3 linked regions of the Homo sapiens genome follow. The protein of the gene in region 3 purifies or fractionates together with the protein of the main gene of each other region. This does not show direct contact. Each region holds a gene or a part of one and is shown on either strand. Other genes may lie near its edges. The genes, in order: AAMDC, NUP35 and GMIP.

Region 1 (3,654 bases), on a different chromosome or scaffold from region 3:
CATCAAAGATTTGGAAGATAGACCCAAGACACCCAAACATTCTGGGCTAATGGATCCTCAGCACATACACAGTGGATAAGCAAGAAGGTTCAAGAGGGCCTTGCAGAATGTAAAAGCCAGTGAAGACATACAACAGCTGGACTTTGAACGCACTCCCCTGTACACACAGTGTTCCATCAGTAGAGAGAGAAAGTCTTACTGCCTCAAGGTGTTTGAGCCAAATGTTTAATTAATGTTTGGCTGAACACTAAGCTATATACACACCAAGGAGAATCTTGGGAAACTGGGTTTAAGAATAAAATCAAGGAAAAAACTCTAACAGAACAGAGACTAAAGTAGACACATATTGCATGGGAGAATTCATAGATTTAGTTTAGTGCTATGGTTTGAATGTCTGCACCCTTCCAAACTCATGTTTAAATTTAACTGCCATTATAACAACATTAAGAGGTGGGACCTTTAAGAGCTGATTAGGCCATGAGGGTTCCACCCTCATGAATAGATTATGCTGTTATTGCAGGAGTAGTAGGTTCATTATAAAAGGACAAGTATGGCCCTCTCTTGGTGCTTCCACCATGTGATGACTTCCACTATAGGATGATGCAGCAAGAAGGCTCTCACCAGATGCGAGCCAACTGGTCTTGGACTTCCCAGCCTCCAGAACTGTGAGAAAAAAAATTATTTTCATTATAAATTTTAAATTACCCAGTTTCAGGTATTCAGTTATAGGAGCACAACATGGATTAAGCACAAAATGGATTAAGACATTTAGTATAGGCAAATGGCTAAACCCCCACACACAAATAAACAGAAGAACAACTTTCAGGGGGAAAAGTTGTTTCGCCAGGCTGGATGCCATCCACACTGTCCTACAATATGTTATCTAAAATGTCACTCTTCAACAAAAAATTACAAGGCATGCAAATAAACAAAAACTATGACCCACACTCAGTAAACTGAAACTGTTACCTGGGGCTGAGTGTGGTGGCTCATGCCTGTAATCCCAGCACATTGGGAGGCCAAGGTGGGAATTTCACTTGAGGCCAGAATTTCAAGACCAGCCTGGGTAACATAGGGATACCCAGTTTCTTTTATGTTTTTATTAGAATTTTATTTTTCTAATAGAAATACATTAAACACTTTTTTTTCTTTTGAGATGGAGTCTGGCTCTGTTGCCCAGGCTGGAGTGCAGTGGTGCGATCTTGGCTCACTGCAACCTCCACCTCCGGGGTTCAAGTGATTATCCTGCCTCAGCCTCCCAAGTAGCTGGGATTACAGGCATGTGCTACCATGCCCGGCTAATTTTTGTATTTTTGGTGGAGACAGGGTTTCACTATGTTGGCCAGGCTGGTCTTGGTCTCCTGACCTCAGGTGATCCACCTGCCTTGGCCTCCCAAAGTGCTGGGATTACAGGCGTGAGCCACTTAAAGATACTTTTAATTCAAAAGGTACTAAACAGTAGAAAGTGAAAGTTTCCTTGCTCCCATGAACCCCAGATACCTAGTTTTCATGTTTCTTTTCAAGGGTATATTGTGCATTAATCATTCAAATCCCTGGGTGTTGTGTGTGTGTGTGTGTGTGTGTTTACTGTCCCCCTCTCCATACTCTAATATTACAGAAATGATAACATGCTATCAACCCTGGTCTTTATTTTGCTTTTTTGCTTTCCAATATCTTGGAAATTGTTATATGCATGTAACATCTTTTTTACGTTCCAGGATACATGTGTAAGACATGCACGTTCATTACATAGGTACACATGTGCCATGGTGGTTTGCTGCACCTATCAACCCATCACCTAGGTATTAAGCCCCACATGGATTAGCTATTTATCCTGATGCTCTCCCTCCCCCTGACCCCCACCAGCAAGCCCCAGTGTGTGTTGTTCCCCTCCCTGTGTCCATGTGTTCTCATTGTTCAGCACCCACTTATAAGTGAGAACATGTGCTGTTCAGTTTTCTGTTCCTGTGTTAGTCTGCTGAGGATAATGGCTTCCAGCTCCATCTGTGTCCCTGCAAAGGACATGATCTTGTTCCCCTTTATGGTTGCATAGTATACCATGGTGTAGAGGTACCATATTTTCTTTATCCAGTCTATCACTGATGGGCATATGGGTTGATTCCATGTCTTCGCTATTGTAAACAGTGCTGCAATGAATATATGTGTGCATTTCTCTTTATAACAGAATGATTTATATTCCTCTGGGTATATACCCAGTAATGGGATTGGTGGGTCAAATGGCATTTCTAGTTCTAGGTCTTTGAGGAATTGCCCCACTGTCTTCCACAAAGGTTGAACTAATTTACATTTCCACCAATAGTGTAAAAGCATTCCTATTGGGAGACCTGGTTTCTACAAAAACAAACAAACAAAAAAAAGCCAAGTGTGTTGGCTTTGCACCTATAGTGCTAGCTACTCAGGAGGCTGAGGCAGGAGGATCACTTGAGCCCATGAGTTTGAGGCTGCAGTGAGCAATGATCTTGCCACTATACTCCAGCCTGGGTGACTGAGCAAGACTCTGTCTCCAAAAATTAATTAATTAATTAAAAAAGAAACTGTATCTGAGTAATTGAGTATTCTCAGAAGTCTGACATTTAGCAAAGACTTCAAAGAAAGTAGTATAAGGGAAATAAAGCACAAAGAAATAAACAAAAATATGGTAACAATGACTCAGCAAATACAGAATCTCAATAAGGAAACACTTCAAAAAGGAATAAAATGGAAATTCTAGCACTGGTAAGCACAGTAAGTAAAAGGTACTTGTATTGCTGGGCGCGGTGGCTCACGCCTGTAATCCCAGCACTTTGGGAGGCCCAGGTGGGCGGATCACGAGGTCAGGAGATTGAGACCATCCTGGCTAACACGGTGAAACTCCGTCTCTACTAAAAATACAAAAAAATAGCTGGGCGCAGTGGTGGGCGCCTGTAGTCTCAGCTACTCGAGAGGCTGAGGCAGGAGAATGGCGTGAACCCGGGAGGCGGAGCTTACAGTGAGCCCAGATAATGCCACTGCAGTCTGGCCTGGGCAAAAGAGCGAGACTCTGTCTCAAAAAAAAAAAAAAAAAAAGGTACTTGTATCAGTCAGGGTTATCCAGAGAAACAGAAGCAGATGACTATAAATATTGACAGACTTGTTTCAAAAAAGTGGCTCACAAAATTTTGGAGGCTGGCAAGTCCAAAATGTATAGATAATACTGGTAAGCTGCTCACCCTTGGGCAAGAGTTGTTATGGTACTGAGGCAGTATTTCTTCTTCAAGGAAACATCAGTTTTGCTTGGACTTTAAACTGATTGGAAGAGGCCAACTCAGTGTATCAAGGATATAATCTCATATATACACTAGTCTACTGACTGTAGATGTTAACCATATCTACAAGGTATGTTCACAGCAACACTTAGATTAGTATTTGATTAAATAACCGTACTATAACCTTACCACGTTGACACATAAAACTAACAGTCACAGTCTACATCTTGTCAATTTGGCACCTATATGTGTCTCCTTAACCATATTTAATCTCCAACTAAAGACGATTAGAAAGTCTTACTTCTGATTAACATTAATAACTAATAACCCATTTTTGCAAGTTCAACTTATTATTAATATCAAAGAGACAGTGTCTCATTCTTTCATCCAGTCTGGAGTGCAGTAGTGT
Region 2 (3,654 bases), on a different chromosome or scaffold from region 3:
AAAGGGACAACTGTGTTCCATCTAGTAAATATGCTTGAGAGAAAATAATTTGGGAAGAAATAAACAGACAAATGATTTAAAAAACTACAAACAAATATCAAACTCTAGTTAATGACATGCATGCTCAAGTGTCAGGGTAATATGTATTGATGTCTACAACTTATTATGAAATGTACCAACAAAAAGAATGAATTGATAGATGGATAAATGACAAAGCAAATGTAGCAAACTGTTAACCATAGAACCTAGGTGGTAGTAATATGGGTGTTTGCTATGCACTTCTTTCCATTTTACTGTATGTTTGATTATATTCATTATAAAATGTTAGGGTGGGGTTTTTAAAAGGCAAATGGTCTGCAAACCTTACCCAAATACAGTCACCCAAGAGTCATCGAGGTGATCTTCTGAAGTCAAAGAATCTCCTTGAGTATAAAAAGGATCCAACTGGGCAGGAGATAATGTCGTCTTTCGTGGCTGACCGATACTTGCTGGACTAAACATACTTTGCCCTATATTAGTATATTTAGCAAGTTAGTTGCCAGTGTAAACACCTCGATTGATTCTAAATCAAAAATCTTAGTTTTAAATGATAAAGTCTAATAAAGTTGGCAATTACATAAACAGTTCAAAACATACAACTGTGGTCAAATAGCAATTTCATGCTACCATACAATTAGAGGAAGTAATAATTGGGCATAGTTTATAATTCTGCAAATGTTTTATTATGTATGATAAATTATCTAAATGTTTTATTAAGCATGTCTGGTTAAGCTGACACCAGAAGGATATCCCAGGCAACCTCAAAGACTTCTGTTGGTTTCATCTTCCAAACCTACCACTTTCATCACAGCACCTCTGCCTTAAGAACATGTAAAAATGTATTACCCACAGAACAAAATCCGAATGCCTTGGCCTCAGCTATACAGTTGCAACCTTACTTTTCCAGTATGCACTAAACAATATCTACCTTACCCCTTAAAATGTGAATGCAATTTTCTTTTATTCAGGTCATTTCTTTCTAAAATGTCTTATCCTTTTATTTCTTATTCTTCAGTAACAGCCACCAATTGAGTACTTCTGTGTGTCCAACATGCCATGCTAAACACTTTATAAAGTTCATTTTATATCAGAAGCAATGTCCAATTAAGGCTATACATTTGAGAGAAGCAAAGACTATTTCCCTTTCATCTTCACAGTAGCAATAATGATTTACTCATTCAAAACATATTTTATCAGCACTTAAATATGCACCAAGCATCAACCTAGGTATTGAAGGTATAGCAGTAAACACATTAGACAAATAAAAACAAAAAATCCATCCCTATTGGAGCCTACATTCTAGCGAAAGAGAGACAAATAAGTAAATACTTAATGTGCTACAAAACTAAAAATCCTACAGAGAAAAAAAAATAAAGCAGAGAAGGGAGACAGGGCCAATTTGTGTGGGTGGGTTAAATGAAAAAGGATTTCACTGAGGTGCATTAAAGCAAAAACCTGAAGGACAAGGGAAGCAAAACAATATTTGAAGAAGTGAACATTTTGTGGAGAAAATAATAAAACAAAGGCCATGAGGAAAGACATGATTGGTCTTAGATGAACGCAAGAAGGCCACTGTTTGCACAGTGAGGGGGATGTGAGATGAGAACAAGGAGATGCGAGCAGAGAGGCAGCAATATGCCGGATCATGAAGAAAAACCTTATAAAGCCACTGTAAAAGCTAAAGCTCTAAGCGAGGTAGAAAACCAACAGAAAAATCTGAGCAAGCGTGACATAACAGGACTAAAACTTTGATAGTAAAAGGTAGCATTTTAAGGGCCAGGCCAGTGGCTCACACCTGTCATCCCAACACTTTGGGAGGCCAAGGCGAGCGGATCATGACGTCAGGAGTTTGTGACTGGCTTGGCCAACATGGTGAAACCCCATCTCTACTAAAAACACAAAAATTAGCCAGGTGTGGTGGTGCATGCCTGTAATCCCAGCTCCTCTCAAGGCTGAGGCAGGAGAATCGCTTGAACCCGGGAGGCGGAGGTTGCAGTGAGCTGAGATAGCACCACTGCATTACACCCTGGGTGACAGAGAGACTCTGTCTCAAAAAAATAAAAAAATTAAAAAAAAGGTAGCATTTTATTAAGTGATTATTACACTTTACGAGTGTAATTTTATTTAATTCTAACAATCCTACAAAAGGTCCAATTAGTCCATTTAACAAATTAGGAAACAGGATAATATTAAATAACATCCAGAAGGTTAGTTGGAATTCCAATCCAGGCAATCGGAATCCAAAGCATGAGCTCTGAGGCAGTAATCTAGTTAACATGTTTATTTCCTGTGGCAGTACTACAAGTGTGGTCTGGAGATTCTTGGCTCCCCCAGGACTCTCTCATGAGATCAGCCAACTCAAAATTATTTTCACAAAAACATGAAGTTTCATTTGCCTTTTTCTCAGTCTCTTATTAGTGTACAGTGGAGTTTTCCAGAGGCAACTTCATGTGATTCAACAGACTCAGGTTGAAAAGAGAAGCAGATTCATGAGAATTCACAGGTATTTTATTAAGCCAGACACTAAAAAGATTTTTAAAACAAAAACAATGTCACTCTTCCTGCAAATCTTTTTTTCTTTAGAAAATAGTTACTGTTCACTTCAAAAAAGATTATGTTTATATGAAATAGCTTTATTTTTAAATGAGTTAATACTTAAATTTTAAATTTTGTTTTAATTTTGAATGCAGTAAATATTGATAGCTATAATCTATATAAACAAAAGCTCTTTAATTTTTAAGAGTATAAACAAGGTAAAAACTACAAAACTAAGACATTTGAGAACCACTGTTCTACAGGTCAATGCGCATGAGTCATGCTCCATTTTTATTGATTTTCTAGAGGCTACTTAACATATTCTAACTATTGTATGTATCTCCTGACTTGCCATTTATCCTTAATTCCCAAATGAGTTGAAAACCATCCTAACTCATTCCAAAGTGTTTATAGTCACATGGATTTCTCCAAGTATGTTCTTAAGAAACAAAAAAGATTATCTATAGAAGGTGGGGGGAAAAGCTACTGTGATAAAAAGCTTGGCTTTGCACTGTGGCTCGTGACTGTAATCCCAGCGCTTTGGGAGGCCAAGTTAGGAGTTCAGGACCAGCCTGGGCAACATGGCAAAACCTTATCTCTACTAAAAATACAAAAAATTAGCTGGGCGTAGTGGTGTGTGCCTGTGGTCCCAGCTATTTGAGAGGCTGAGATGGAAGGATCACTGGAGCCTGGGAGGTGGAGGTTACAGTGAGCCAAGATCATGCCACTGCACTCCAACCTAAATGACAGAGTTTAAGACTCCATCTCGAAATATATCTATAGATATATTTGATAAAAATAACCTGTTAAAGAAGTGGGCAAAGAACATGAATAGACATTTTTCAAAAGACATACAAATGGCTAAGAGGTATATGAAAAAATGCTCAACATCACAAATCATCAGAGAAATGCAATTCAAAACTACATCATCACCTTACCCTAGTCAGAATGGCTATTGTTAAACAAAAAAACAAACAGATGCTGGCGAGGATGCAGAGAAAAGAGAACTCATACACTGTTGGTGAGAACGTAAATTAGTACAACCTCTATAGAAAGCCATATGGAGATTTCTCAAAGAAC
Region 3 (3,654 bases):
TTAGTACTCCAGGCTCTCGGGGGCCATAGGAGGGTGAATGGGTTGTCCCAGTCCTAGGGGCAGGGGCAGGAATGTGGGGCTACTGTATTTCAGGGGCCACAATGCCCTGGGTGTCAGGGTTTGCAGACCCAAGTGCTTGGAGTTGGTACCTAGACATGATGCCTGGGTGCCATCACCCCAGGCCAGTTTCCTGGGATTCAAACCTTCAAACTTCTGTCTTCTCAGCTCCCCTCTGGACATCAGAAAGAAGCTCTCTGGGCCTCTTCCTCCAAGGCTGGATGAGAATTCAGCTGAGCCAGGCCCTTGGGAGGATCCGGGCACAGGCTGGCGCTGGCAAGGTGAGTGCAATGAGGGCCAGGTGGGAGTGGTGCCAGGAGTTCGTTCCACCAACACATAGGTGGGCTGCAGGAGTGGGGTTTGTGAGCAGGGGACCATCCTTATTGACCTGTGCCACCTAGGGACTCCAGGCCCCACTCCGGGCAGCGATGTGGACAGCGTGGGTGGCGGCAGCGAGTCTCGGTCCCTGGACTCACCCACTTCCAGCCCAGGTAGGGATAGGACCTGGTCCTGACCCACACTCCACCTGTGACCATCCTCCAGCCCCTGGCCAAGCTCTGACCCTCAATCTTTAACTATCTTTGACCTCTGACCTACCCCACACCCCTGACCTATTTCCTCAACCTCTTTTTTTACCTTTTTAAAAATTATTTATTTATTTATTTGTTTGTTTATTTGAGACAGTCTCATTCTGTCGCCCAGCCTGGAGTGCAGTGGCGTGATCTCGGCTCACTGCAACCTCCACCTCCCAGATTCAAGCGATTCTCCTGTCTCAGCCTCTGGAGTAGCTGGGATTACAGGTGTGCACTACCACGCCGGCTGATTTTTGTATTTTTTAGTAGAGACGGGGTTTCACCATGTTGGCCAGGCTGATCTCGAACTCCTGACCTCAGGTGATCCACCTGCCTCGGTCTCCCAAAGTGCAGGGATTACAGGTGTGTGCCACCACGCCCGGCCTTTTCTTTTCTTTTCTTTCTTTCTTTTTTTTTTTTTTGAGACAGAGTCTTGCTCTGTTGCCCAGGCTGGAGCGCAGTGGTACGATCTTGGCTCACTGCAACCTCCGCCTCCCAGGTTCAAGCGATTCTCGTGCCTCAGCCTCCCGAGTAGCTGGGACTACAGGTGCCTGCCACCATGCCTGGTTAATGTTTGTATTTTTAGTAGAGACAAGGTTTTGCCATGTTGGCCAGGCTGGTGTCAAACTCCTTGCCTCATGTGATCCTCCTGCCTCAGCTTCCCAAAGTGCTGGGATTACAGGTGTGAGCCACTGCGCCCGGCCTATTTCCTCAACCTCTTGATCCAGCTTATGAACCACCCCCCTCAGGTTGCTGACCCAATTCTCCAACCCTTAACCACTGACCTGTCCAATCCCCCTCCTGACCTCTGACCCCTTGGGAATTAGTGGGTGGTTCTGGAAGCCCTAAAAACCAGGAGTGCCTCCCATAGCCCAGGAATCTCCCATGATTCCTCTGACCCCAGGCGCTGGCACGAGGCAGCTGGTGAAGGCTTCGTCCACAGGCACTGAGTCCTCAGATGACTTTGAGGAGCGAGACCCTGGTGAGGCTGAAGCAGGGTAGGTCAGGATGGGACAGGGCAGGGCACCAGGCACTCCTGACCCTGTCTCCCTGCAGACCTGGGAGACGGGCTGGAGAATGGGCTGGGCAGCCCCTTCGGGAAGTGGACACTGTCCAGCGCGGCTCAGACCCACCAGCTGCGGCGACTGCGGGGCCCAGCCAAGTGCCGCGAGTGCGAAGCCTTCATGGTCAGCGGGACGGAGTGTGAGGAGGTGTGGCCTGGGTTAATGACCAAATGACCTTTGCTGACCCTTGATCATCTCCCTGACCTGAGATTCCTACAGCCTTTCTGCCCCTGGGACCCACCCTAACCTGATGTCTCCCATGAGCCCCCATTCCTTGAGGATCCTTGTAACCTTCTCTTCCCCTACTGGTCCCTAATGACCTCCCTGTCCCTGTGACCTTCCCCACAGTGCTTTCTGACCTGCCACAAGCGCTGCCTGGAGACTCTCCTGATCCTCTGTGGACACAGGCGGCTCCCAGCCCGGACACCCCTTTTTGGGGTTGACTTCCTGCAGCTACCCAGGGACTTCCCGGAGGAGGTACCCTTTGTGGTCACGAAGTGCACGGCTGAGATAGAACACCGTGCCCTGGATGTGCAGGTGCTGCCCTGACCCTTCATCATCCCCAGAAGTGACCTGACCGAATCGATGGCCTATCACGAACCAGGTGTCTGTTTTTCACCCTCACCCTGCAGGGCATTTACCGGGTCAGCGGGTCCCGGGTCCGTGTGGAGCGGCTGTGCCAGGCTTTCGAGAATGGCCGAGCGTTGGTGGAGCTGTCGGGGAACTCGCCTCATGACGTCTCGAGTGTCCTCAAGCGATTTCTTCAGGAGGTTGGTGCTCAGGACACTGAGGGGGACGCGGGCAGGAGCCCTCCACAGCCCACCCACACTCGTGTTGCGCCCTCCGTTCCACCCCCAGCTCACCGAGCCCGTGATCCCCTTCCACCTCTACGACGCCTTCATCTCTCTGGCTAAGACCTTGCATGCAGACCCTGGGGACGACCCTGGGACCCCCAGCCCCAGCCCTGAGGTTATCCGCTCGCTGAAGACCCTCTTGGTACAGCTGCCTGACTCTAACTACAACACCCTGCGGCACCTGGTGGCCCATCTGTTCAGGTGTGCATGGGTCCCTGAGCCTTGAAACGCGACCCTTTTCCCTGGACATGCGACTACTAACTTCCCTGGCTGACCCCTGACACTGACCTCTGACCTTTGACCTGTGTTTTCTGAACTCTGAACCTTAATCCATGATTCATAACTTTGGGTACTGACCCCTGACCTCCAGTTCTGGATATGTGGCTGCTGGTCTCAGACGACTTACACCTGTGACATGGGCAAGTCACCTCTAGGCTGGCCTGCGTGTCCCACCCTTACCCTCAGACCAATGAGCTTGCATCCTGTACCCTGACCTTTCTCTTCACACCATCCCCAGGGTGGCTGCACGATTTATGGAAAACAAGATGTCTGCCAACAACCTGGGCATTGTGTTTGGGCCGACACTGCTGCGGCCGCCGGACGGCCCGCGGGCAGCCAGCGCCATCCCTGTCACCTGCCTGCTGGACTCTGGGCATCAGGCCCAGCTTGTGGAGTTCCTCATCGTGCACTACGAGCAGATCTTTGGGATGGATGAGCTCCCCCAGGCCACTGAGCCCCCGCCCCAAGACTCCAGCCCAGCCCCTGGGCCCCTCACAACCAGCTCCCAACCGCCACCCCCGCACCTTGACCCAGACTCCCAGCCCCCAGTCCTAGCCTCAGACCCCGGCCCAGACCCCCAGCACCACAGTACCCTGGAGCAGCATCCCACGGCCACACCTACCGAGGTAAGAACCCACTGGGCCCACAGCTATGGAGAGGGCCTTATCTCTGTTCAATTCTCTTACCTTCTCTTTCACCTTCCTTCCTTTTTAAAATTTCCTTCATTCTCTTCCTCCCTTCCTCATTTAACTTATGTTCATTCTGGAAGGAATAGTGAGGAATGAGCAGTGGGCAGTGATGATGTAACAAAAGGGGACAGCCCTGCAG

Evidence for each region.
Region 1: the proteins of GMIP (region 3) and AAMDC purify together in Homo sapiens (affinity purification with mass spectrometry, with the first as the bait; one large-scale study listed by BioGRID). This does not show direct contact.
Region 2: the proteins of GMIP (region 3) and NUP35 purify together in Homo sapiens (affinity purification with mass spectrometry; one large-scale study listed by BioGRID and IntAct). This does not show direct contact.

What each region holds. Positions count from the first base shown.
Region 1 is NC_000011.10:77,838,028-77,841,681, reverse strand, and holds part of AAMDC (mth938 domain-containing protein), read right to left. Parts: intron 664-3,654; exon of another isoform or gene 497-663; coding exon of another isoform or gene 458-496; intron 1-457. UniProt on the Homo sapiens protein: May play a role in preadipocyte differentiation and adipogenesis.
Region 2 is NC_000002.12:183,148,363-183,152,016, reverse strand, and holds part of NUP35 (nucleoporin NUP35), read right to left. Parts: intron 510-3,654; coding exon 368-509; intron 1-367. UniProt on the Homo sapiens protein: Functions as a component of the nuclear pore complex (NPC).
Region 3 is NC_000019.10:19,633,601-19,637,254, reverse strand, and holds part of GMIP (GEM-interacting protein), read left to right. Parts: intron 1-225; coding exon 226-338; intron 339-458; coding exon 459-548; intron 549-1,533; coding exon 1,534-1,611; intron 1,612-1,685; coding exon 1,686-1,840; intron 1,841-2,041; coding exon 2,042-2,230; intron 2,231-2,325; coding exon 2,326-2,463; intron 2,464-2,551; coding exon 2,552-2,748; intron 2,749-3,064; coding exon 3,065-3,452; intron 3,453-3,654. UniProt on the Homo sapiens protein: Stimulates, in vitro and in vivo, the GTPase activity of RhoA.